Linked DNA regions of Homo sapiens: regions 1 and 3 are each linked to region 2. Evidence: fine-mapped expression QTL. A gene starts in region 2. Each other region holds a variant in brackets. All regions are shown on one strand. Distances are between the middles of the regions.

Region 1 (2,761 bases), 140 kb after region 2:
TGCCTGTAATCCCAGCTACTCAGGAGGCTGAGGCAGGAGAATCGCTTGAACCCAGGAGGTGGAGGTTGGTGTGAGCCGAGATCACACCATTGCACTCCAGCCTGGGCAATGAGAGTGAAACTCCATCACAAAAAAAAAAAGTCCAGGCCTTCCCGGAAGTTCAAGACTGGAAGCAGTGGGGTCTCTGTCATAGTTGCTAGCTTTCAAAGAGCAAGCTGTCACAAATCCTACAGCCACGAGGATATAAGTTCTGCCAATAACCTAAGGGGACTTGGAAGCTGATTTCTCACTATTCAAGCCTCAGATGAGAGCTCAGTCAGTCAATACCTGGCTTTCACCCTTGTGAGCCCCTGAGCTGGGAATTGACTAAGCCACACCTGGACCTAGGAAACTGTTAGGTAATAAAAGCATGTTGTTTAAGCCAGTACCGGGTACTGATTTGTTATGCAGCAATAGATAGCTGATACAGAAGGCGGATCTACTTTTTTCAAGAGACTTTCCTTCACCATTATATTACCATTCACAATCACATAAATATCAAATATTTAGATTTATGCCTGCATTTAAAGGCATACATCTCTTCCTTCCATTCTCCATCTTCCCCTATCTGGATATCTTTGTTTTGATTTAGTTCCTATTTGGTGGCGATGCTTATTAAGGTACTTATCTTAGGGTATAGGGTGCTATATTTTCTGTATCCTTGAATGTATGGCAATGTCTTTCTTTTGCCCTCAAATATAAACAACAAACTCCTAGTCCTTTTCATTTAAAAGTCTGAAACGCTGCTCTGCTATTCTTTACCTCATGATAGAGAGGGGCAGTACAATGCCGATTTGATTCTCTTTCTTCTGTATGTAACCTGTGATCCCTTCGAAGAATCTTGTAAAAAATTCTCTTTATCCTTGCAGTTACAAATTTTACCAGGAAATCTCAAATTGTGTATCATCTCCTTCATTAATCCCATTACTGCCCTGTGAGCCCATTCTATTTGAAAATAAGACTTTCTTCACCTCACAGACACCTCCTTCTAGGAGTTAGTTAATTCTGCTTCTATTTCCACATGCTCCTTCTTCTGGAGCACCCATCGCTCAGGCAGAAGCAGATCTCTCAAATCTTTTCTCCATGTTTCCTGTCTTTTCACTCGTGGTTTCCACTTCCTCATATTTTGATTCTCTCATGCACTAGTTCCTCCTTTTTATTCAGATCCAAATTCAATTTTGAGTAGTGTACATTACTTTCTTCACTTCCTTTCTTGAGTGTTTAGAGCTGTTGTTGCA[ATTTTTG/A]TTTTTATTTCCCAAAACTTTTCTCCCTCTCTGAGTTGCTGGCGTGGGCTAGTGTACTGGCCAGGCTAGTGGGTGGAAATCTTGGCAGAGACAGACAACATAACACATTCCCCTTCAGGGATGGATGGGCAGCCAATGGGGCCCTGTGTACTAAGGCATGAGGCAGAGAGAGGCCTCCCAGTTTGGTGTTCTCAAGGCCACAAAAAATGGGGGGGCCAGCTCAGCCTACTGTGCAATTTCCTTAGACAGCAGCCCGTAGCCATGAGATCAGTACACCCCTCTGCCTCCTAGGGTCAGACGCAGCACAATTACAGCATGCACTTCCTCTCTATAAGCTGAAGGATTTTTTTGGACTAATCTGTTCATTGAGTCATCAGTTCTCTCTGGAGCCCTCATCCCCTGTTCTTGTGGTTAAGCAAAGGCTCCCAGCACACATACCCTTTCTTGAGACCCCAAATCTTCAGATGACCCCATTCAGGGTCATCTACCTTATTGAGCCATCCCTAGCAGAGAGTCAGGAGGGATCAGAGATATTGAATGTCAATGTGAGCTGCCATCTTCCTAGAATCTTCATTTGTTCAGAGTAAGAAATCCATGAAAATATTTATACACATGGAAAGGAGCAAGGGGAAAGAAGGAGGTTGAAGATATGTAGAGAGAAAGGTAATAGATAGATAGACTCAGAACTGAGAAGCCTGAGAATGAAGCCAGCACATCTGCTGTTGTGTCCTGGTAGATGTTAGTGGAGTTTGGTTCTAACCGAACGTCATACTCCAACAGAAGCATCAGATCTGTGGAACACAAAGTCAAGACCTGGCCCAGCTTCAGCCCTCTTATCCAGGAGCTTAATCAAGTTTTCAGTGTAGCCTACAAGGCCATGAGACTTGCCAAAAAGGTTACTAAATAAAGGTAGGTTCATCCAAAGAGAAGCAACGGTGAGGGCAATGCAAGGTCTCCAGCCAGGTGGATGGCATCAAGCAAGCAGCAATAGGAGCAAGCGGTTGAATGAAATGGCTATAAATAGAGCCCACAAACGCATTCCAAAATCTAAACCCGGCCCCGTAGTTATGGCTTAGAGAAATGTGTGCAACAGCTGATAAATAGGTTCTCCTGGAACAGGGCCGTCTGAGGATATCTGGGCTCCAGGAAGCCTTGCCATCCACAAAACGTGGCCAGAGGCCAGTGAAGATGCTGGGAAAGGGCTTTAGGAACCACGCTGACCAGGCTTATAGGGGAAGAGCATTACTGTCCACCTCATAGGGTTCTCGGGGGGATTTAGTGAGCTATGCACATTAGGGGTTAGAACGGGGTCCACACATTGGAAACACTCTGTCAATGTCGCCTGTTTTTAATAAGCATTAACTTACTTGCTGATACATGGGACTCCGCCTGCCTCCTCCCCAAGAAAGCACAGCATTCTATCTCTGCATAAGAAGCTTTATAGGACGGCATCCTTCCTCTTCCACAGTTTTCACAGC
Region 2 (2,761 bases):
TTTACTACGAAACAATGTGGCTCCTAGCTTGCCAAAAGTTTAACTGCAGGATTCAGTGGATTTTATCTGGCAGAGTAGCTGCCGTGACTCTTGACAATATTTGCCAGCAAAAGGCAGTCCTCAAACCTTGCAACCAGGGCAATCCCAAGGCCCAACGTGTCACTGAAGGAGTTCTTCTGGGAAAGGTCCCTCTTTCTCTTCAATCGCCTCCCGCAAATCCCCAGCTTCCAGAATCCAATTCAAGGCAGTCTGGCATTTCAGGAGACAGCAGTAAAAAACTTTTGATGGGATAACCCAGGACATAAATATTCCTGGCTGAACCTACTTTTGATTCTTAAATATCTGAAGGAGCTTGGGTTTAAGGAAGATAAAGGGAGAGAACCAATGAATAGGGAAAAATAAAATAAGTAGCATACCATGACCAAGCCAAACCAAGCTTGATATTTCCACATTATATTGGCAAATGGATGCTTTCACATATCACTTGTTCTGTCTTTCCTGGTGACCACAAAAAAAAAAAAAAAAAAAAAAAAATCTGGCTTCAAAAATCCTAACCCCAGACCACTGCATTGTGTCAGTGGAATGCAATCTAAATTGCCAGTCAGAAAGTCCAACCTTATATGTACCAACCAACACGCACACAAGCACCTCCAAGCCAAAAGTTGTAACGCCTGAACCCGTGCGTTTATCAATTTCATCATCCCCATACCCCTGCCGGGTTCCTGGCGCTGGGTAAACCGACAGCATCATGTTGCCATCGATGCGTCTTACAAGATGGTTTTGGGCAAATCCCCTAAAGTAGGCAGAAGCAAAAACTAGGTTCCTCTGCCCGGGCACCTCCTCCTCCAGGCTGGCCCCCGGCTCCCGGGTGCCCCTTACCTGCAGGCGCTCCGTGGCCGGCTGCCACATCTTCCAGCCCTGGGTTTTGGCAGAGGAGACGCTGGCGAGACTGTCGATCGCGCCGGGGGGCGAGGGGCTGGGGTCCCGCTTTACATCTGGGGTCGGTGTCCGCGGGATGTGCGTCCTGGCGCTGGCCACCGCCGCCGGGTGGGCGTAGGGGGCTGCGAGCAGGAGGAGGCGCGGCGCTCAGCTGCCGGCAACTTGTGGGCACGGCCGCGCGCCGGCTGTCCTGGCGCAGCTGCGAGAGGACTGCGCAGCTCCGCCCGGGCCCGGCGAGCGCGCGGCGGCGGCGGGGGCGGCCGCTCCCTCCTCCCCCGCCGCCGCCGCCCGGACCTGCGCGCTCTGAGCATGCCCGGGGCGGGCGCCCAGGGGCCGCGCGGGGCGGGAGTGCAGCGCGGCCGACTCTAAATCCTAGTGAGGGGTGAATGGGGAGGCTAGAACAGCCGGCCCTTCCCTGCAGGAAGCCCCCATTGGGTTGGGGTCTGGGAAAAGGGACAGACTGGCTGAGGGGGGAAGGGCCTGGAGCCGGGGGTGGTGGGGGCAGCGGGGATGTCGGGGGTGGCGGGGGTGGGGGAAATTCCTAAAATAAGGAAACCGTAGCCCCGGGGGTCCCGGGTTTCCATATAACAGGCATCTCTGAAGTGCCTGTGCTGTGCCTGGCGCTGTGCTAGGGAGACACTTCCATTCATTCTTCCCACTCCAGTTAACTGAGCATCTATTAGGCTCCAGCCCCTATGCTGGGTTCTGAGGATGCAGCGACGCAGAATAGAAGACAAGAGAATGTTCCTTCTCTCTGGAGCTTACCTTCTGCTTTGGAGAGAGAGTCGTGACTGAGCAAACACATCAACAAGCCGGTGCTATATCGGGTGGTGATAAAACAGGGCAGATGTGGGAAGAAGGGGAGAGGAGAGCTTCTTAGACAAGGGCCCTGGGGAATGCCTGGAGTAAGACCTGAGAGATGAGAGGGATTGGCCACGAAGAGGCCATGCTTCATGATGGGGAGAGGACTCGACTCCTAACCTATACAGGGGTGAGGAGGGCCATGCAGACTCCCGAATCACTAACTCATCCTGAGATCTGCCAGGTGCAGCAGGAGGCTCTCAGAACCCAAGGGAAAGCCGCTCTGGGCTCGCAGGCCTGGAGGCTCCCCGGCTAGTGCCGGCCACCATGAGATGACTTCCTGTCCTAAACAGGCCAGCCCTTCCCATTCTCTTGACAACTCGGCAAAATAACTATTAATATTTTCACCATGTGGATCAAACAAATGAGGCTTATAAGGTTTAGGTCACTTGTCCAGGTCACACAGCCAGTGAGTGGCTTAGAGAGTGCACAGTCAGATGACTTCAGGGCAGGAGATGTGGCCCTGCGCCTCTAACTGACCATGGAAACCCAGTGGAAAGAGCATCCGTCTAGGGCTGGGGGTTAAAGGCACTTGGCAAGTCAGGGATACTAAGCTGATTCTCGAGCTGATGAAGAGTGGGAGAGGAGAACATGGTGGGAAGAACTCAGGACATAGAATGACCAAAGAGAGGAGCAGAGAGAACACAATGTTTGTGGGGAGCCCTAGGCTCCTACAAGGCAGGGTCCTGAGAGCAGAGGGGTGTGAAAGAGAGGCATTTCATACTGAGACAGCTGCACAGCTTGGGCCGTGAGCTACTCATGCAATGTCAAAATCCACACTCCATGTCTGGAAGGAGGATCTGTCCATTTTCCTTGTTCTGCATGACTACAATGATTTCCAGATATGGAACCACTCCAGAATCTAACCCTCAGCTCATCGGACCCTCGCAGCAACTCTCCGTGGGACAGAAGCCCCTATCTCCCAAGGCTTGGGGAGCACAGGGTTCACAGAGTCACACTG
Region 3 (2,761 bases), 60 kb after region 2:
ATGGTGAGAAGGCTGAAATACTTTTAAAGATAGGACTAAGTCATATTAGATTTTCAGTCATTTAAGTGGAAAAGCCATGTTCACATATTTTCATTAAATTCAGTTGACCTACATGTGCCTTGTGTGAAGAGCTGATTTTCAGCTGGTAAAGTAGTCACATGAAACTTTTAACAGCCAATGCCAATTCTGACTGGGGGTGATTTATTCCTATTCTTTAGTGTTCATCTCCATACTTTTTTGGGTGTTTTTTTTCTTTTCTTTTTTTTTTTTTTTTGAGACAAAGTCTCATTCTGTTGCCCAGGCTGGAGTGCAGTGGTGCGATCTCAGCTCACTGCAACCACTGTCTCCCAGATTCAAGTGATTCTCCTGCCTCAGCCTCCCAAGTAGCTGGGATTACAGGCACGCACCACTGTGCCTGGCAATTTTTGTATTTTTAGTAGAGATGGGGTTTCACCATGTTGGCCAGGCTTCTCTCAAGCTCCTGATATCAAGTGATTGCCTGCCTTAGCCTCCCAAAGTGCTGAGATTACAGGCGTGAGCCACCGTGCCTCGCCATACTATTATTTTTTAATCCAACTCCAGCTTGTGTGAAAGCTTTTTGTAGAAAAAGGATGAGATCCATATCTGGGTCAGAATGGAGCACAGGAAAGAAAAGCTGTAGAAAGTGAGACACATGGTCTTGTGAGTCTGACCTCTGTTGGGTTCTCAGAGTCAGAAGGAACTGTGAGCCTGTGAGACCCTGGAAGTTGCCAGAAATTTTGGAGAGTCCATTGGCTGTTCCCTAATCATGAGCTAGGGGCCTGGAGTTAATTATTTTTGATGAAGTACATTAAATAAAAATAAGTAAATAAAATATTTCCAGCTGTCCTTTGAAATAAATAAAATGTTTTATTTATTTCAAAGGACAGCAGACAGCTGGCATATGAGCTATGCCTTCATTCACCCCATGAGCTATGAAATCACTCTTTCTTCCTAATGGGTTCTGTGCCTTGTACAGATATCTGTGATTGAATCTGTGAAATACTATAGTCTCTGGACTCAGCAATGAGCTGGAGGTCTAATTAATCTTTATATCCTCAGCACCTCGCATAGGATTTGGCACAGGAAAGTCACTCCGTAAATGCTTGTTGAAGTAACCTTTGGTTCTTAATACAACCAAGACTTCCCATCGTTCATCAAGTCTTGCCCTTATTTAACTGTCATCAGTACCCTGGT[C/T]AGGGTTCATTTCCATGCTTCCCCCTCCTGGCTTCCTCATTTCTTTATTTTTTTCTCTTGCAGATGGTCCTGTGGTTTCACTTCCTATTTGGTTTCTGAACTCTCTGAGCACGAGACTTGGAGACGTGGAGTCCTTTCACTGCAGCTTTCAAAACCTTTCTTAGGGCTGATATGACAATTGCTGGCACTGCGTAATTGCTGTGTGGCTACTTGAAAACTTCTCCACTAGAGACTCACTGAGAGCACCTATTCTGTTGAATGGATTTGGCACAAGGAGGAGGAGAGAAGACAAATGGCCTGGGCTGGTAAGAGACAAAAGTGCCGTGTGTGAGTCTTGGCCCACCTACCTGCTGTGAGACTCTGGGCAAATCACCTGGTCCCTCTCTTCCCACATCTTCTGATGAGCCTTGCTGCCTATTTCCTGAGTAGCTCAGTGGCCACCAGAGACCCCAGGCTCTTTATCAACATTTCAAGATTGTGTAAGTTCTGGCATTTTGTACATTATCAAAAAGAGAAGGCTAAGACCTAAGTCAGGCTAAATTTGATTCAGGAAAACACCTGACGTTTTTGTACTTAAGTATCGAGGGGTAAATCACATCTTTTGCACCTGAATCCGTAAGAACTGTGGCCTAACCCTCTTCTTCTGGAGAACTCACTTTCCTGTCTTTCTGAGACTCCAGCTAGATAGTCCTTTGGCAGATGTTGACCCCATACTACCTTCTCCGTGGGCAACATCTGAGTGCATGGTCTACCTTAGTGAAGGACCTCTCCTTGCCCCTGAAGCACTTCTATCATCCTGGACCTCAACGTGGAATGGTGACCCCTACCTGCCCCACCAGTCACGACCACCTTCTTCCAGCACCTCCAATGTGTCTGCCCTCCAGCACCACCTGCTCCCAACGTAAGACTGCTGGGGTGAGGTTGCAAAACTTGTGTCTCCCTTAAGTATGGCTTCTGTACAGGTTTGTACCCAGTTGTATTTTAATTAAAAGCTTGGCTCTCTAACAATGCAGGTTCTAAAGAGGCCTTAGTTTGCTCCCATTGCCAGTCTTCTTAGAGACTAAATTCAGTCAGCGGGGGAAGGCTTTGCCTCTGCTTAGGATTGGAAGCCTCCATATGCATAATTGCAGAGGGGCAGTAGAGGAGACTAAATGCTTATCTAACCTATGGTTTTTATCAACGGTGGTCGGTTTGTTATTATTTTTAAATGAGTTAGATTCACTTTAAGATGTAAATGGAAAATGGCTCCCAAGTTGTCACAGGCACAGTGCCAAGTATTTCAGACACTTATGAATATCATTAGATAATTATCATATTTGCTGTCAATAGCACTCATTAATCTCGTGTTCAGGGAGAGGAGCCCTTCAGAGCATAATTGCTGCAGTTAGAAACATCTCTATCCCAAGTGCCAAGCAATTCCATGTGACCTTCCCCTATAGACAACCCCATAGTTCTATGTGATGCCATCCTCTGTAGCCACACACCCCACCAAATTCACAGCACCTCTGCCTTTCCCCTAAGTAACTAAGGGTCTCATTCAATTCCA

Evidence for each region. PIP is the estimated chance that this variant, and not a neighbour inherited with it, causes the effect.
Region 1: its variant is fine-mapped to the expression of PID1 in whole blood (TOPMed, PIP above 0.99).
Region 3: its variant is fine-mapped to the expression of PID1 in whole blood (TOPMed, PIP 0.98).

What each region holds. Positions count from the first base shown.
Region 1 is chr2:229,415,034-229,417,794 of GRCh38, forward strand. The region is part of intron 9 of DNER (delta/notch like EGF repeat containing); the gene reads right to left. Among named protein-coding and RNA genes, the nearest start is that of PID1, 150 kb to the left of the region's middle. The variant ATTTTTG/A (reference allele first, on the strand shown) is at 1,278.
Region 2 is chr2:229,270,135-229,272,895 of GRCh38, forward strand. PID1 (phosphotyrosine interaction domain containing 1) reads right to left here and starts at 1,153. Exons shown (of 3, transcript NM_001100818.2): 1 at 880-1,153. The coding sequence starts at 909.
Region 3 is chr2:229,329,866-229,332,626 of GRCh38, forward strand. No RefSeq gene overlaps it. Among named protein-coding and RNA genes, the nearest start is that of PID1, 60 kb to the left of the region's middle. RefSeq lists an enhancer at 763-1,843. The variant C/T (reference allele first, on the strand shown) is at 1,216.